2 linked regions of the Homo sapiens genome follow. The protein of the gene in region 1 purifies or fractionates together with the protein of each later gene. This does not show direct contact. Each region holds a gene or a part of one and is shown in the gene's direction. Other genes may lie near its edges.

Evidence for each region. The genes of interacting proteins can lie anywhere in the genome.
Region 2: the proteins of DTWD2 (region 1) and CELSR2 purify together in Homo sapiens (affinity purification with mass spectrometry; 3 studies listed by BioGRID and IntAct, with this or other methods). This does not show direct contact.

What each region holds. Positions count from the first base shown.
Region 1 is NC_000005.10:118,841,893-118,845,641, reverse strand, and holds part of DTWD2 (tRNA-uridine aminocarboxypropyltransferase 2), read left to right. Parts: intron 1-3,749.
Region 2 is NC_000001.11:109,247,797-109,251,545, forward strand, and holds the start of CELSR2 (cadherin EGF LAG seven-pass G-type receptor 2 precursor), read left to right. Parts: upstream 1-1,742; 5' UTR 1,743-2,283; coding exon 2,284-3,749. UniProt on the Homo sapiens protein: Receptor that may have an important role in cell/cell signaling during nervous system formation.

The sequences.
Region 1 (3,749 bases):
CAGGAGTAATTGTACTGCAGTGGCCAGGAGTAGAAAAAGGATATTTGACAGTCAAACCTGGGATTTGGGAGGTACTGATAACATGGTGGGAGAGTGAGCAGAAGAAATACATAATAAAACATCTCAAGTTGCTTATTATTACAGATGGCAAAAATTGCTTCCAGCCACAATTTATAGTGAAAGCTGTTTTCTTAGTGGGGGAACCCCACATCCAGCCTTTTCAAATCTAGTTATGAGAAAAAAATTAGCATCTAGTTGCGATAATAAATTAGCATCTTTGTGAAATGCAGTATCAGTCTGCCCTAAACATAGGTGTTTTCTTTCCCTCCTGGGGAGGAAAGTGATGACATACACTTTTTCCCAATAACCTTTTATCAGGGGCATTCTAATAAAACCTTAAGATGGTGGGGGAGAATAGTAAATTTTCTTTTTCTTTTTCCTCTTTTCTTTGCTTCACTTTCCTTCACTTTTCTTTTTCTTTTTTCTTTTTCTTTTCCAACAGAGTCTTGCTCTGTCACCCAGGCTGGAGTGCAGTGGCATGATCTTGATTCACTGCAACTTCTGCCTCCTGGGTTTAAGTGATCCTCCCACCTCAGCCTCCCAAGTAGCTGGGACTACAGGTGCATACCACCATGCCCAGCTAATTTTTGTATTTTTTGTAGAGATGGGAGAGGCGGGGGGAGTCTCAAGTTGCCCAGATTGGTCTTGAACTCCTAGGGGATTTAAGCGATCCACCTGCCTTCGCCTGCCAAAATGTTGGAATTACAGGTCTGAGCTACTGTGCCTGCCAGAGAAGAGTAAATTTTCACTTGGCTTCATTCTATAGAGGCAGGGTTCCTCAAAATAAAGAACTTGGCACAGAATAGCTTTGTTAATCTGTTGTCTCATCCTCACTCTTTATTCTAGAGCAGTTTTTCAAGCACCTGAAAGCATGGCTACATGAAAGTAGCACAATGTGGATTTTGAAGTAGTTTTGAATTACAACTTATTATCATCACTTTTTGCAAGTGGGCAGACCACATAATTTTTTGTACTTGTGTTCTTATCTGTAATATACAAAATGTTACCTCATAGTATTTCAAGAACTGAGATAATAATGAGTAATCGCCACAGTTGTCAACACAGGCACTCAAAAAGAGTTAATCCTCTTGCCCCTCTTTTCCTCTCTAATTTTTGCCTGTAGATTGGCAAAAGAAAGTCTGAACTAAAAGATAGTGGCTTTCATTAGCTACTACAGTATTTACCAGGACTTTTCATACCTTGGAAGCCTTTAGCTTGGGGTTCTTTTTTATTACAGAACCTTTTCTACTTACGAAGTTTTATCATAGGAATTTTTAAAGATAGATGTGGCAAAACCTCCTGCTATAACCTGAATGTTTTGGCTCTACCCAATATCTGCAGTTGGTAGTAATGGTTCCTTGAAAACTGTCACTTTTCACATGCAGCAAAAAGGATTTACTAGGATAGGCTACAACTTTAAAACTCTGAAGTTGAAATCAGATAAGATGACAAAAGTTTATGCATCTCTCATGCTGTTTGTCCAGTGGGATTACCCTGAGGACCTCTGCTGATTTGCAGTCACTCAGGCACCCAACCTGATGGAGGAACTATCTAGATAATTCATCCCACTTTCATCAAGGAAGGAGCAAGGAAGGTGGTGTATCCTATACCACTTTTAATGCTTCTGCCCTAAGGTGACACGTATTAGTTGTACTCACATTTCATTAACCAAAGCAAGTTATATGGCTGTGCCTAAATTTGAAAAGGGATAGAAAATGCCAATCTGCTCATGTATCAGGAAGGAGGCTGGCCTATTTGTGAACAGCTGTAGGGAGTACCAACAGAGATGGAGTAGGGATCTAATCCAGATCTGCCTGTTTCCAAAATTCATTCTCTTCATTACCTCAGTAAATTGATAGAATCTTATCTTCAGGATGTAAAAGTTGGAATCTTTTGACCATAAGAATATGAGTTTTCTTCTGTTTACAAGAATATAATAAATGTCATAAAATATCAATAGAATCTTCAGTTGTCTTGGTCTGTATGTCATCCTAGGTATGTTTCCTGGGTTCAGTGTTTCAGAATACAGTCCACTGTGGTGACTCTGTAAAGTACGTAAAGTCATATATAGTTATTTTAGCATTCCCTCTCTTATTTTCCTCATTAAAATAAATTACGGGAACATGCATAAGGAGTTTTCTACAATAATATTGTGCAGAGCCTTTCCAAGATATTTACCTTTTTTCTTTCTATCTCTCTCCTTCCTTCCTCCCTTCCTCCCTTCCTCCCTCCCTGCCTCCCTCCCTCCCTCGCTTCCTTCCTTTTCCCTTCCCTTTCCCTTCCTTTCCCTTCCTTCCTTTTCTTTCTTTTCTTTCATTTCTATTCTGGGCCGGATGCGGTGGCTCACACCTGTAATCCCAGCACTTTGGGAGGCCGAGGCAGGTGGATCACGAGGTCAGGAGTTCGAGACCAGCCTGGCCAATATGGTGAAACCCCGTCTCTACTAAAAATACAAAAATAAGCTGGGCATGGTGGCATGCACCTATAGTCCCAGCTACTTGGGAGGCTGAGGCAGAAGAATCACTTGAACCCAGGAGGCGGAGGTTGCAGTGAGCTGAGATTGTGCCACTGCACTCCAGCCTGGGTGACAGAACAAGACTCCATCTCAAAAAAAAAAAAAAAAAAAAAGAGGAAGAAGAAAGTTTCTCATTCTGTCACCAAGGCTGGAGTGCAGTGGTATGATCGTGGCTCACTGCCGCCTTGACCTCCCAGGCTCAAGCGATCCTCCTGCCTCAGCCTCCCGAGTAGCTGGGACCACAGGTGCACACCACCATGTCTGGCTAATTTTTTCTATTTTCTTTTTTTTTTTTTAATAGAAACAGGGTCTTGCCATGTTGCCTGGGCTGGTCTCAAACTGCTGGGCTCAAGCAATCCTCCTGCATCAGCCTCCCAAAATGCTGGGATTACAGATGTGGGGGTGTATATTACAGTAAGGAATTATATTTGCCTGCATGTAAGAGAGCCCTTACTGCAGTGGTTAATTCACATGGGGTTTTCTTTTTCTCCTGTAAATCAGAAATGCTGAGGTGGGCAGTCCTGACTGGGAATGCAGCTTGAAAAAGAATTCAGGGACAAGTTTTCTTTTCTTTCTGTCCATCATCTTTTGTATTTGGCTTTAATCTTCATGTTTGTTGCCTAGTAGTCACATGATGCTTGTCCTACCTTCAACAGTTATTTTCTAGGCAGGAAAAAAGGACAAAAACCTATGCCTGCTAAGTTTGTCCCCTTTAAAGAGTATCTCTAGAAGCCCCATCCAAGGACTTCTAGTTACATCTTCTTGGATAGATTGGGTCATTAGTGAATGTAATATTAGTAGCTGGACACATTGCTACCTTGAATATAATTTGAATTATTTTAATAAGGGAGAAAATAATACGAAGAAGCAACTACTAGTGACTATCACAATAAATAAATTTAATTTCATTATAAATTAAAGCTATTAAGCCCTTTTTCTACCACTTATGTTGTGCATCAGCCTCCCAAAATGCTGGGATTACAGATGTGAGAGTGTGTATTATAGTTAGGAATGATATTTGGCCGCATGTAAGAGAACCCTTACTACATTTGTTAATTCATGTGGGGTTTTCTTTGTGGGTTAATACATTTTCACGTAGACATTGTGAATTTTTTGTAGTTAAATCTATCAGTTTTTTCTTTGTTTCTTTTGTGCTCCTTTAACAATCTGTTTA
Region 2 (3,749 bases), on another chromosome or scaffold:
CGCAGCCCCTAGATCCTTCCAAACTCCAGAGTCTGAGGAAGTCTAGAGAGGCAGAGCCCTGCGGAGGCGTGTAACCCACGCCTCCATCTCCAGAGCTGCCCTTGGCCTTGCTCAGAGGAAGAAAGCTCCTGTTTGGTCAAAGGGGAGGGCATTTCCTTGAGCCATGGGTCCTCCTCCTACTTCTATCCATCCTGCCAGGAGCACAGTCTAACCCTAATCTTTCTTGCTGTACCCAAGGCCCATCTCCTTTCCTGTTTCCCCAGGGGAAAAGAGAAAAGCTGATTTCTCATCCTTGGCCTCACTGTGTGGTCACACAGACACTCCTTGGGCCTGGGGCTGGGGGATCCTCTGCTGTGACCCAGTGAGAGTGGCACCACTGTGACCGGGGGCAGTGGTAGAAGGGAGCACCTGATCCAGTGCTTTTCAGATGGGTTCCTCCAGACCCTCAAGTTGCACAGAGCAGCCCAGGGATTTCTTGGTTGGGGGAGTGGTGGAGAGGGGCAAGGCCCTGACCCCCTCACTTCAACCCAGCAGCACTACTCATCTGTTCTATATTCTGGCCTTCCACTTCAGATTTCTTTTGAAGAAAAGAATTCTACTGCTAAATAAACATTTGAGAACCATTCACCTTATTCAATCCCCTCATTTTACAAAAAGGGACATTGAGGCACAGAATTTGAGCAAGGTCACATAGCTGTGGTGTTGGAGGCTGGGACCCAGGCCCAGGCATCCCCCCAGGCCAGGGCATCCCCCCAGGGACTACCTGACTGGGCCCCTGGCTGCTCCAGGATGTAGGGAAGCCTTTTCTGGGTCGCCTGCACGGCTCCTGCCTGGCTCTCCGTGTGGTCCAGCTTCATGTCTGGTCCTCTTGGAGAACCCCTGGAATCCTGCACACCCTCTCAAATGAAGCTGCCTTGGAGAGGGTCAGGAGCCCGGGTACCAGGTAGGCCTCCTCGCTGGTCACAAAACTGTGGCGGAAGGAGGGGGTAGCCGCAGGACATGGACAGGGAGGCAGGAGGGGATGAGAGGCCGCCTCTCTAGACAGGACCTCAGGGGGCAGTGTAAGCCCCTTGTCTAGAATCCAGGAAGCCTGTGTTAAAGCTAGGCTCCACCGCAGCCGGCCTCCGAATCTGGTGACAGTGTGTTTGCACCACCTGGCTTCCACCCACTCTGACCCTTCTAATTTACTTCCCTGGAAAAGCCCAAGTGGTGTCCAACATGAGGCTGGGGTCATTCTTCCAACAGCCCGACCCCAAGGGGCATGCTGGTCAGACAACAGCCTCGCTGGTGGGGTGGAGGGGACGGTAGGGAGCGAGTGGGCCCGGTGACTCATTGTGGGTGCTTCTCTGGGATTTTGGAGGCTTTGTTGTGTTGCTCAGGGCCCTTTTAACTCTGTCTGACCTATGGGAGGGGACAGCAACGAGGGCTTTTATGACTGGAATGAACTGGAAACTTGGCCTCTGAGAGCCCTTAAAATGTTTTGGAAACCTCTAGGCATACTTAGGGTACTTCCACCATGATTATCATCGGCTGTGTGGCTTCCGATCGCTAATTCGCACCGGGCATCTGGCGAGGCCGGCCTGGGGAAATTGGGATGGAGGGTCCTGCTGGAGGGAATCCTGGCGCTTTGGGCGGAGGAGTGCTCTGGGTGGGGCCCACCTCCTCCAGCGCGGCCGGCGTTGCCGCTTTAAGGCGGCCGCGGCGCGAGCAGGTCTATGGTAATGAGCCGCCGCCGCGACTCTGCAGAGCTCGCCCGCCCGCCGGGGAGGCGAGGGAGCGCGGGGCTGGGCCCGGGGCCGCGGCGACAGGCAGCAGCCGCGGCGGGGACGCGGGGCGCGAGCGGGCGGCGCGGGACCGTCGGGGGCCGCCGGGGCCGGGCCGGGGTCGGGGCGCACGGCTACGCGGGCGCAGGTGGGCGATCCCATAGGGGCGGAGGGGGCACCCCGGCTCCGGAACCCGGGGCCCGGCAAGGCCAGGGGCGCCGCGGGGCCCCCGGGCGCAGGTGGTGAGTGCCCGGAGCGCAGGTGGAGGCGCGGCGGCAGCCCGCGGTGCTCAGGGTGACCCGGGAGCGGGTCTGGCTCAGGGGGCAGTGGGAGCCCGGGCTCGTCGGAGGGTGCAGCGCGGGGTCCCGCCGAGCCATCCAGACGCAGGCCCCGCGGGGCGCACGGGAGGCCCCCGGGGACTGGCGCCCTGGCCCGGGCATGAGGCGCGGCGGGGCCGGCAGGAGCCGGAGGAGGAGCCGCCGCCGCCGTTGACCCGGCCGCCGGCCGGGAGCTGGGAGAGATGCGGAGCCCGGCCACCGGCGTCCCCCTCCCAACGCCGCCGCCGCCGCTGCTGCTGCTGTTGCTGCTGCTGCTGCCGCCGCCACTATTGGGAGACCAAGTGGGGCCCTGTCGTTCCTTGGGGTCCAGGGGACGAGGCTCTTCGGGGGCCTGCGCCCCCATGGGCTGGCTCTGTCCATCCTCAGCGTCGAACCTCTGGCTCTACACCAGCCGCTGCAGGGATGCGGGCACTGAGCTGACTGGCCACCTGGTACCCCACCACGATGGCCTGAGGGTTTGGTGTCCAGAATCCGAGGCCCATATTCCCCTACCACCAGCTCCTGAAGGCTGCCCCTGGAGCTGTCGCCTCCTGGGCATTGGAGGCCACCTTTCCCCACAGGGCAAGCTCACACTGCCCGAGGAGCACCCGTGCTTAAAGGCTCCACGGCTCAGATGCCAGTCCTGCAAGCTGGCACAGGCCCCCGGGCTCAGGGCAGGGGAAAGGTCACCAGAAGAGTCCCTGGGTGGGCGTCGGAAAAGGAATGTAAATACAGCCCCCCAGTTCCAGCCCCCCAGCTACCAGGCCACAGTGCCGGAGAACCAGCCAGCAGGCACCCCTGTTGCATCCCTGAGGGCCATCGACCCGGACGAGGGTGAGGCAGGTCGACTGGAGTACACCATGGATGCCCTCTTTGATAGCCGCTCCAACCAGTTCTTCTCCCTGGACCCAGTCACTGGTGCAGTAACCACAGCCGAGGAGCTGGATCGTGAGACCAAGAGCACCCACGTCTTCAGGGTCACGGCGCAGGACCACGGCATGCCCCGACGAAGTGCCCTGGCTACACTCACCATCTTGGTTACTGACACCAATGACCATGACCCTGTGTTCGAGCAGCAGGAGTACAAGGAGAGCCTCAGGGAGAACCTGGAGGTTGGCTATGAGGTGCTCACTGTCAGGGCCACGGATGGTGATGCCCCTCCCAATGCCAATATTCTGTACCGCCTGCTGGAGGGGTCTGGGGGCAGCCCCTCTGAAGTCTTTGAGATCGACCCTCGCTCTGGGGTGATCCGAACCCGTGGCCCTGTGGATCGGGAAGAGGTGGAATCCTACCAGCTGACGGTAGAGGCAAGTGACCAGGGTCGGGACCCGGGTCCTCGGAGTACCACAGCCGCTGTTTTCCTTTCTGTGGAGGATGACAATGATAATGCCCCCCAGTTTAGTGAGAAGCGCTATGTGGTCCAGGTGAGGGAGGATGTGACTCCAGGGGCCCCAGTACTCCGAGTCACAGCCTCGGATCGAGACAAGGGGAGCAATGCCGTGGTGCACTATAGCATCATGAGTGGCAATGCTCGGGGACAGTTTTATCTGGATGCCCAGACTGGAGCTCTGGATGTGGTGAGCCCTCTTGACTATGAGACGACCAAGGAGTACACCCTACGGGTGCGAGCACAGGATGGTGGCCGTCCCCCACTCTCTAATGTCTCTGG